Linked DNA regions of Homo sapiens: region 1 is reported to be linked to region 2. The links are microRNA targets in miRTarBase. Many come from high-throughput screens and were not tested one by one. Region 2 holds a microRNA gene; the other region holds the end of a gene's coding sequence.

The links. The annotated mature microRNA hsa-miR-6749-3p reads CUCCUCCCCUGCCUGGCCCAG and lies in region 2 at 3,823-3,843, opposite strand. An mRNA with a match to its seed (bases 2 to 7 or 8) in the 3' UTR can be bound and repressed. Matches are read on the target gene's strand: a 7mer-m8 pairs with bases 2 to 8, a 7mer-A1 pairs with bases 2 to 7 and ends in A, and an 8mer does both.
Region 1: the mRNA of DIS3 is a reported target of hsa-miR-6749-3p. Seed matches in the 3' UTR shown: 7mer-A1 at 1,785-1,791, 7mer-m8 at 2,718-2,724, 7mer-A1 at 3,741-3,747 and 7mer-A1 at 4,185-4,191.

Annotation. Positions count from the first base shown.
Region 1 is chr13:72,755,029-72,760,403 of GRCh38, reverse strand. DIS3 (DIS3 exosome endoribonuclease and 3''-5'' exoribonuclease) reads left to right here. Exons shown (of 21, transcript NM_014953.5): 21 at 526-5,375. The coding sequence ends at 609. It overlaps BORA (BORA aurora kinase A activator), which reads right to left. Exons shown (of 12, transcript NM_024808.5): 12 at 4,208-5,253. The coding sequence ends at 5,188. Among named protein-coding and RNA genes, the nearest start is that of DIS3, 24 kb to the left of the region's middle.
Region 2 is chr11:64,898,565-64,903,939 of GRCh38, forward strand. It overlaps MIR6749 (microRNA 6749), which reads right to left and starts at 3,891; the gene lies at 3,823-3,891. ATG2A (autophagy related 2A) reads right to left here. Exons shown (of 41, transcript NM_015104.3): 25 at 5,026-5,096; 26 at 4,724-4,800; 27 at 3,952-4,116; 28 at 3,696-3,822; 29 at 3,398-3,612; 30 at 2,320-2,528; 31 at 1,930-2,065; 32 at 72-278. RefSeq lists an enhancer at 1,757-1,886.

The DNA.
Region 1 (5,375 bases), not on the chromosome of region 2:
TTTGCATAGCAAATCCTGTTTTCTCACTGATTTCTTTAGGCCACGGGATTCTAGACATCTGAGATTCTGTTCAGGTCTTTGGTGCTAAAATAAAAAGGTCTTCCATTCTCCTGCCTAGTCTTTTCTATCTAGAAGTTTTGAACTCTGCATTTTGAAGATGAAGTGTAGGTGTTTCACCTAAGATACTGGTTCTTAACTTTTGTCCTTCCCCAACACACTTGAAATCAACTCTGATTCTGTCAATCACAGTGGCTCCCCATTGGGAAGGCTGTTTTGTAGTTAAAAAGAACACTTCCTAAATGACATGCTTCTCACCTGTTGAGACCATGTCTAGCTTTTACATTTTTGAACCACTGCTACTTTGTAAAATACCTTCTGTGTATAAAACCTTTAATTAGCCCCCTTTCCCCTCCCTACCACTACATCCTTTTAAATTTGAAGCTGGCAGTGGGGAAGGGGAGGATGAGGTTGAGATGTATTCTATCCTTTAAATCACCTTATTTCCCCCCATTTGCATTACTTTAGATACCAGGAATAAGCATTCCTACTGATACTTCAAACATGGACCTTAATGGACCAAAGAAAAAGAAGATGAAGCTTGGAAAATAGCTATATTCAACAAAAATCTTCAAAGACTGGTTTCTTTTTTAAAAGAAAAAACTTGAAAGAACACTTCTAAGCCTAAGTGTGTGATACAGTTTGTTACTTTTAAGTACATTTTAATAATTTCAGACATCTGCATTTTTATTGAACAGTTGACTGTATCTGACCCATCATACTACTATACTTCTGGGTTGAACAGAATTATTTATGCAGAATAATTCAATTGAATATCCATCACTTAAATACAGTGACAGGACAGCAACTTCAGGGATCTGTAAAGATCATTTAAATGGAGTGCTCATCTCATTGAGGAGCAGATTAATTTTGCGTAAGTACTTTGATTATTTAATATTTGTAAGAAAAAACTTTCATTTTCCTACAGAGGAAAATAGAACAATTTTAGAAGCAAGGAACAATCTCTTTTCTAAGTCTTGGAAGCTGTCAGTGTTGAGGATGTAATCTCCTTTGCCATCTTTAATTCACCTAACTTACACTAGGTGTTCTCTTACTGTCTTTAAAAGCTTCCTGTATTTTATTAGTGGTCCTTGAAAAACTGTGAATGTTTGGGAATTGGTAGAAAGGCAAAAAGTAGGATATTTTGACCTGACTGGAAAGATGGTTGTGTTTTTATTGCCAGGTAATAAGTGTGATCATTGTTGAACTTCAGCTCCAGTGTCTCTCCAGAATAAGACATTGGCATTCAAATGTCTATATCTTGTTACTTACAAAATAAAAAACAGATTAATTAGTGGCTTTTAAATTGTAGTTATATCAGTGTATATACACGAGGGGAACTGTATAAAGACATACTAAAGGGAACAGATTAAAATAAGTATTATTAATAAAATTTGGTGTGCCAGACTGACTACTTCCCTTGCTAATCACAGAGATTAGTAATGATTAAATTAATATCTTCAGGAATATTTTGGGATAGGGTTGCCTTAAAACATTTTACTTGGCTTATTCAATTTCTAAAGCACTTACGTTGTGCCAGGTTCCACTCAAGTAAATTATCTCTGCCTTCAAGGAGCTTGCAGTATAGTGAGAAAAGCCTGCCAAGTAAATCAGCAGGTATACTAAATAGGTAGTCATTTAGGCACTCAATAAATGTTGACTAATTTTTCCAGTTTCCTATTACTGAGGAAAACCTCCATACACTGAGGCAGAAACTTGTGTCAGTTGGAGGAAAATAGACTTGAGTAGTCTTTGGTCCAGGTAAAATGGGTCAGTGACACTGAAACAGTAGAGTAGGAGTCAAAAAACCTTTTCTGTGAAGTGCTAGAACATTTTAGACTTTGTTGGCTATGGTCTGTATTGCAACTATAGTACACAACTCTGCCGTTGATAGTGTGTAAGGAGCCATATACAATATGTAAACAAATCAACATGACTGTGTTTCAACAAGGCCTGATTTGTTAAGTTTCATATATAGTCATATGTCACTTAATGACAGGGATATGTTCTGAGACATGTCACTTGGCAATTTCATCATTGTGTGAAAATCATGATGTAGTTACACAAACCTAGATGGTATACCCTATGGTATCCTATATGGGATAGCCTATTGCTCCTAACCTACAAACCTGTATGGCATATTACTGTACTGATTACTGTAGGCGGTTGTAACACAGTGCTAAGTATTTGTGTATCTAAACATATCTAAACATAGAAAAGGTACAGTAAAAATATATATATAGATATATATAAGATATAAAATGGTACACCTATTTAGGACATTTACCATGAACAAGTTGGCAGGACTGGAAGCTGGCTCTGGGTGAGTCAGTAAGTGGTTAGTGAATGTGAAGGCCATGATATTACTGTGCACTACTGTAGACTTTTATAAACACTATATACTTAGGCTACATAAAGTAATTTCACTATGATGTTACCATGGCTGTGTCCCCAGGCAATAGGAATTTTTCAGCTCCATTGTAATCTTACGGGATCATCATCGTATATTTGGCCATTGTTGACCAAAAGTTATGCAGCACATCATTATAATTTTGATGTGTCACAAAACATTACTCATTTGATTTCCCCCACCCCCGCCAACCATTTAAAAAAGTTTGCCGGCTAGGTGCGGTGGCTCATGCCTGTAATCCTAGCATTTTGGGAGGACGAGGCGGGTGGATCACTCGATGTCAGGAGTTTGAGACCAGCCTGGCCAACATGGTAAAACGCCGTCTCTACTAAAAATACAAAAACTTAGCTGGGTGTAACGGCGGATGCCTGTAATCCCAGCTACTTGGGAGGCTGAGGCAGGAGAATCGCTTGAACCTGGGAGGCGGAAGTTGCAGTGAGCCGAGATTGCACCACTGCAGTTCAGCCTGGATGATGAGAGTGAGACTCCATCGCAAAAAAAAAAAAAAAAAAAGAAAAGAAAATTAGCCAGGTGTGGTGGCAAGTGCCTTTAATCCCACCTCAGGAGGCTGAGGCAGGAGAATCGCTTGAACCTGGGAGGCAGAGGTTGCAGTGAGCCAAGATCGCGCCACTGCACTCCAGCCTGGGTGACAGAACAAGACTGTCTCAAAAAAAAAAAAAGAGAAGAAAAACTGCCTACAGGCCATAGTTAACCTGCAATAGAGAAGAAAGGGAAGTAGGGCAGTGCATGACTGGCCTTAGGTTTTTTCTTTCCAAGTTTATTTTCTTGTGCTTCAGCTACTAGAAAGGTTTAATTCAGGGATAAGTCCCAATTGAGTAGTTCAAGATGATCAGAGACTTTGCTATTTTCCCCTAAGTTCTATTCCATAATCTAAAATGTTCTGTTTCTAGTGCCAGTTCTTATGCTAAGCAGGTTACGTGGAATATATCACTTAACTCAAAAAGCCCTGTTAAGCCAGGACTGTTATCTCCATTTAACAGATGAGAAAATGGAGGTTTATGGTCTGTTCTCACACTGCTACGAAGAAATACCCCAAACTGGGTAATTATTATAAAGGAAAGAGGTTTAATGGACTCAGTTCCGCATTGCTGGTGAGGCCTCAGGACACTTACACAATCATGGCAGAAAAAGGAGAAGCAGGCACCTTTTTCACAGGGCGGCAGGATGAAAATGACTGCCAGCAGTGGAAATGCCAGACGCTTATAAAACCTTCAGATCTCATGAGACCGGCTCACTATCACAGGAACAGCATGGAGGAAACCGCCCCCATGATCCAGTTACCTCCACCTGGTCCCACCCTTGACACGTGGGGATTGCTACAATTCAAGGTTAGATTTGGGTGAGGACACAGAGCCATACCATATCAGCCCAGATCAAGTAGTGACAGAGTAGGGATTTGAATACAGGTTATAGTCACTATTGTGTTATTTCTTGACTTTTGTACTATTAAAAAACTGTAGCCAGTGAGGCTTCTACCCTTAGTACCCAGAACTCCTTTTAGGTATAGCAATTGTTTTTAGGTAAATTTATATTGAGTTTAACACCTGTGTGATTAAAGACAACTTTCCAATGTAGTATCTGTAGCCATGTCCCCTAATGGCTATTAGTGTTCATGGTTAGTGTGTTGAAGATGAGCCAGGTACATAACGCGGCACATTTTCTGCAGGTCAGCAGTAAGGTTTCAAGGTACAGTTATGGAGGAAAGAAGAAAATGACACATTGATAACACAGGTCTTTATTCCCTTTTGAATGAGACAGTTTTTAAAAGTTGATTTATAAATACAAAAATACATTCTCCAAAGATAGTATTTCCAAACTGTTATATACCCATCTACTCCCAACATGGATATAAGTTTTTTAAAAAAATAGTTGTATATAACATACATATCTGCCCCAGTGTTACTTCACAGGCCTATGCCCTACGGGAACTCCACTCTCCCAGCCCCACTTTTTCTCTTGGTTCTCCCACATTCTTATTCTCCCACATCCCTACCCACGTTTGAGCTGGAAAGGATGTCCCTACCCTAGGCATGAGGTATATTTTATTCTGGGCACCACACATTTGCCCCATAGATAACAATACACGTGATGATGTCACTAGTACTACCTTTCTAGTATTTACATACTTAAAAGTAGTAACTAGAACAGTTATCACTGGAACTAAGAATTTTCCCCACAGAGGTGAACAGACCAAGAACTAAAATTTCAGGAAACCTGTTTAATTTCTTTTGTATCTTTGAAAAGTTAGTTTTATATCTAAGATTTCTTCACATAGGTTATAATTCATCTGTATGTTCAAGCTTTTATGTAAAAATATATAGTGCCTTCAGTTTTAACATAGTTTCACATGTTCTCAGAACTGCTAAATTCAGTGCTACCAGTAAGGCTTAATAAGTAGTTCATTGACCCTGTAAGATAGGAGCACTCAGCTCTGTCACAATTTGTTGTTAAACACATCACTCAATGTAAGTATAAAAATATTTATTGATAAAAAATAAACTTATAATTCAGCAACTTGAAGTTCCAGGAGCATTTCTGTTGTTCCTATGTCAGTAAGCCCTTGATTTTTCACATTAAGGAGGGAAAGCTAAGCATGTTACTTGAAGTAATTTTTTCCCAGTCACCATCATGTTGATCCTGTGCACAACGATATATGCGAGGAACTCTTAAGCTTAGTCTTTGATTCTGACAGAGGCATTCTATGGACTGCTGCATTGAAAAGGGCTTGCTGTTTTCATCCAACACCTCTGTGTTGTGTGGTCTTGCTGTGAAAAAGAAGACAATACCTTGTTTTCAGTTTAAGTAGGACCACTGGAGGATGCAATTATCGGGACTGTTTTTAAAACCTAAAAGCACGTTTCTTTAGCTGAACTCTGAAGGGACAGTA
Region 2 (5,375 bases):
TGCATGCGTGAAGATGTATCCCCAACGGTCTGGTGCCCTGCCCCAGGGTGGATGGTGCAGGTCGCTCATACCATGTTAGAGTGGGCACGTCGCGGCATCCGCTCACTCGTGTGTAGGTACAGGAACTTGTTGATCTGGGAGGAGGCGAGCCGGTCTCGGACCTCCAGCTCCTGCACGATGAACACCTGACGGGACAGCGGTCGCTCCTCCAGCTCCTGGCTGGGGGCCGCAGGGCCTGTGGCTGGCTCCGCTGGGTACACCTCGTGCTGGAAGCTTACCTGTGGGGTGGACAGAGGCCTGGCCAGGTAAGCAGGGCCCCAAGAGGGAGGGAAGGGCTGGCCCCAGACCCCTTCTCTATTCTTTTTTTGAGACAGAGTCTCACTCTGTCGCCCAGGTTGGAGTGCAGTGGCGTGATCTCGGCTCACTGCAACCTCTGCCTCTCGGGTTCAAGCGATTCTCCTGCCTCAGCTTCCCCAGTAGCTGGGATTGCAGGCATGTGCCACCACACCCAGCTAATTTTAGTAGAGACAGGGTTTCACAACGTTGGCCAGGCTGGTCTCGAACTCCTGGCCTCAAGTGATCTGCCTGCCTCGTCCTCCCAAAGTGCTGGGACTACAGGCATGAGCCACCATGCCCGGCCCCTACCCCTTCTCTATTCTATGCCCAGCAGGGACCTGCCTCTCCCTCCAGACCTGACCCTGCTCTTGCTTCCCATGCCAGCTGCACTGGTCTCTGCCCCTCAAGGAGTCCAGGCCTGTTTTGCCTTCAGGACTTTGCTCTCGTAGCCCCTCTCCGTGGAGAGCCTTCCTTCCCCCTCTTCCTGCACACCCGCTGGCTGGCCATCAGGTCTCAGAGAGGCCCCTGGCCCCCTGCTCTGACACTCATCTCCCGCAGGTTCTTGCAGCACAGCCCACCAACCCGAGCAGCCTGAGGCCCCTCTGCCCTTTGCCTCTAGCGGCTCCTTGGGAAGCCCAGCACTGGCCTGGCTCACTCTGAGCAAGTGGGACCCCCCTGCCCCAGGCAATTTCCCAGGCCCAAACCTTGAACCCTCTGTACCACTCTCTGTATCTCACACACCCCATCCGCAGCTGAACCTGTGGCCAGCCCCCATCTAGGCTCTCCTGAACCTGCTCACTAGCCCTCCCTGATTGCTGCAGAGCCCCACCCCACAGAGGCCTCTCCTCAAAAGCCCTGAGGGGTTCGTCTCTTGTAAGACTCAAAAGAAACATTCTGGGTCGCTGGTTATGCACAGGCTCTGCTGCTCCTGGAAATGTCAGGATGCTTCCAGCTTCCAGCATTTTTTTTTTTTTTTGAAACAGAGTCTTACTCTGTTGCCCAGGCTGGAATGCAATAGGGCGATCTCAACTCACTGCAACCTCTGCCTCTTGGGCTCAAACAACTCTCCTGCCTCAGCCTCCTGAGTAGCTGGGACTATAGGCACACACCACTGCAAATGGTTAATTTTTTTTTTTTTTTTTTTTGGTAGAAATGGGGTTTCGCCATGTTGCCCAGGCTGGTCTCAAACTCCTGAGCTCAGGTGATCTGCTCTCTTCGGCCTTCCAAAGTGCTGGGATTACAGGCATAAGCCACCATGCCTGGCCCCAATTTGCGGCTTTCACGCTGTCCTCTCTGCCTGAAAACTCTTCCTGGCTCACATCCCCACTTGTTCAGGTCTTTGTTCAAATGGTGCCTTCAGAAGAGGACTTTCCAGACCCTCCCCAGCACACCTGTCTCCTCCACCCCTGCAGACTCTCCCCTGAGCGCTCTTCACCATCGGACACACTCGATACATCTTGGTCCCTGCCTGGCTTCCTCCACTACAAAGGCAGGGGTTTTCCTCTGCATTAGTCATTGCTACACGTGACATCGAGAACAAGGCCCGTTGTTCTATGACACACACGTGTAGTAGGCACTCGCCACCCCACTCACCTTGCTCAGCTGGATCTCCATGAGGACATGGTGCTGCCGCCCGCTGCCCCCCTGCGTGCGCCATGAGTTCTGGGGCCGGTTGGGGCCAGAGCAGCGGGAAGGGGAGCTCCTGGGACCTGAGAGGCCAGTTCTTGCCCTGGGAAGAGGGACAGGGGCCAAGCTGACTCAGAGGAACCCCATTCCCTCCCCGTCCTCAGCGGGCCTTTTAGCCTGGGACAAGAGACCCCCGCTAGCCCCAGTCCTGGAAGGCAGGCGGGATAAGGAAGGATGAGGAAACTGAGGCCCACCTGGGGTGGATGGGGCTCAAGGTCTCCAGCTGCTGAAAGTCAGACCTGGACCAGCCTGAGCCCCAACCTTCACCAGCTGCCACCTGCACCCGCTCCTCCTCACCTGTGGCCGGGGTGGGGGCCAAAGTCTCGGCCCCCATAGAGGTGCCAGACGAGGGAGACCTCACGTAGCACCACCCGAGTGCTGGGCACTGGGAAATGGGCAGGTGCCCGCAGCAAGTCCGTGCTGCCGATCGGCCGTGAGAAGTAACCGTCCCTCACAACGATGGGGCCGGGATGCAGCTGTGTCACCACAGGCTCCCCATCTCGGGGCTGCAGGGAGGCCAGGTAGACGTGTGACACAGATGTTCGATCCAGCCCAGCTGCCCCCAGCCCCAGCAACCTGGCCTCACTTCTTTTTCATTTTTTTTTTTTTATAGACAGGGTCGGGTCATGTTCGGTCACCCAGGCTGGAGTGCAGTGGCACAATCACAGTTCACTGCAACCTCTGCCTCCTAGGCTCAAGCGATCCTCCATTCTCAGCCTCCTGAGTAGCAGGGACTGCAGACATGTGCCACCATATCTGGCTAATTTTATTTTTATTTTTTGTAGAGACGGGGTCTCACTATGTTGCTCAGGCTAATCTCTCATTGCTGGACTCAAGCAATTCTCCCACCTTGACCTCCCAAATTGCTGGGATTACAGGCGTAACCTACCATGCTTGGCCTCCTCCCTGTTTTTGATGAAAGATGACACTCCTGGGTTGCTATCACCCGAGTCTATGCCTGAGTGGTCTGTCCAAGAGGAGCCTGAGAATGCCAGGCTCCTGCCAGCCCTGCCTCCTAAGACCTGGGTGAGTTCAGACATTCCCACTGGCCCTTGCAGCCACATGGTTCTCCATCCCTCTTGCTAACTGCCCTCTCCTCTTCCTCCATCCCTTGAATTTCCCAGTCCCTCTGCCCAAAACACCAGGCCTCCTCTTCCTCTGGAAATCCCCCTACTCCATCAAAGCCCAGCATCAGGGCTGCCTCCCTAGGGTGGCACAGACCTAGCACCACCCCCGAGGTGATGGCAACCACCTCCTGCCTGCTTCTCTCACCACGGGAGCTCCAGATGGCCAGGCAACCACCCCTGAGTGTTCCGTCCCCGCTCCAAACACACCTGCCTGGACGGCAAACTGGTCCATCCCTCCCACCACGCACCGGGATGCCCAGGCCGGGAGCATCAAGGATGCAGAACTCATCACTGTCCAGGGTGTCTCCATCGCCCTCCTCTTCCCTTTCATCTTCCTTCTCCTCTGAGCATGACCCTAAGCTGCCAGCAGGGCCCCCGACAGGTGGTGAAGGGGGTGGGGCCCCACTCCGTTCACCTGGGAATAGGTAGACGGAGATGGGCGACGCCTGAGGGAGGTGGCCACCTATAGGAGAGAGGCCAGTTTGGAGAGGCGCCCACAGTGGGTGCCTGACTGTGTCTGCTGTCCCCACAGCACCCCCACTTCACCTGAAGGCTGGGCCAGCTCCCGTAGGCTGCGCTCGGTGTCCAGGAGGGCGTCGGCCAGGTCACGCTGGTTGATGAGGGCCGTCTCCACTGGGGGGCACGAGGGCAGAGAGGCAGGACTCTCCGAGAGCTGGGCCAGGCAGGGGAGGAGCAATGAGTGAGACAGGACAGAGCTCCCCCAACCCCAGGCCCGAGGGCCATGGCAGGGGAGGGGCCTGGCCGAGCTCTGGTAGCCTGTGTGGCCAGGCCTCACCTGTACCTTCTGGCCGGCGATCTCCGTGGGGCTGGGGGGCCGGGGTGGGGGGTGCAGATCGCCTGTGCTCATTACGTACTGGAGCAGGTTGACCAGCAGGGCACAGGAGTCGGCACAGCTGTGCACGTGTACCACATTGTTGGAGCAGCGCAGCTCGAATAGTGGCTGGCTCTGCAGGGGCGGGGTGGGGGGAGCAGCTATGTGAACACAGGGGCCACTGCCTGCTGGCCCCACCCGCTCGCTGGGAGGGCACCGCAGTTCTGATCCTGCCACAGGCAGAACAGGGATGGTCTCTCCTGGAGTGGATGACCTGCCCAGTAACTCCACTGAACAGATGAACAAACTGTTCACCCAGAGGGTGAAAGGGGCTTGGCCCAGGGCCATCCAAGGAAGCAGGAGTGTGCCCACCCACCCTACCCCACTCCCCGTGAAGGGCTCTGCATGCCTAGCGAGGCAGGGCAGGTTATCTCCATCTTACAGGAGATGAATCCGGGGACCTACAAAGGTGGCTGATTCCCAGGGCCTCGCTGGTGCCCTGGCTGCCGCGTCCTCTGGTGGCAGGGCTGAAACCCATTCATTCATTCAGCCAGCATCAAGGGACACCCCCACCAGGGCTGTACTATGGCCCTTTGCAGGAGGGGCGCTAACTGCAGCCCAGGAAGGGCAGGCATGAACTGTGTCCGGAGCCCAGGCACGTGAGGGAGCAGCAGCCCCTGAAGACTCCCTTGGCCCCTGCACCTGCTGTGGCTCCAGGAGCCAGAGTGACAGCCTCACTCACCAGTTTGCCCTCGGTGCTCCCTTTCCAGGTTTTAATCACAAGTTCCAAGAGGTCAACATCCAAAACACAGACATAATCTGCAGCAGAGGCGAGAGAAAGGTCCTGTGGCCCCCTTCCACCCGGCCCCGGCCCCAGCACCTGGGGGAAGGATCCGGTTGATCCAGGTGTAGTCCCTGCTGTGCGGGCTACGTGTGGGAGCTAAGGACCCGGCCAGCAGCTGCGGGGAGACACCTGGCTGCTCTGGGTGTGGCCGGGGCGGTGGTCCCTCAGAGGGGAGGGAGCCCAGTCCCGGCCCTGCCCACCTCGCCGCAGGTCCAGGGTCTCCACCTCACACTTGTCGGACAGGTACAAGGCGGAGTCATCGAGGATGAACCTGGGGGGGAACAGGGCTGAGAAGGGCCCGGGCACCGCTGCAGGGGGCAGCTCCACGGGAGCCGAGCAGAGGGGTCCCAAGCCCACAGGAGGTGGTATGGACAGGCCCCTCCAGCCTCAGCGTTCCTGCCTGCACAATGGGGAGAAGGCCCAGACAGCAGGCAGTGGGAAGCGGGCAGCACTTGCAGCTCTCAAAGTGCCTGCAGTTCCGACACCTCAATGGGGCCTCATGACAGTCCTGGGAAGGGGTGTCCATTTTTCTCCCTGCTGCATTTGTGGT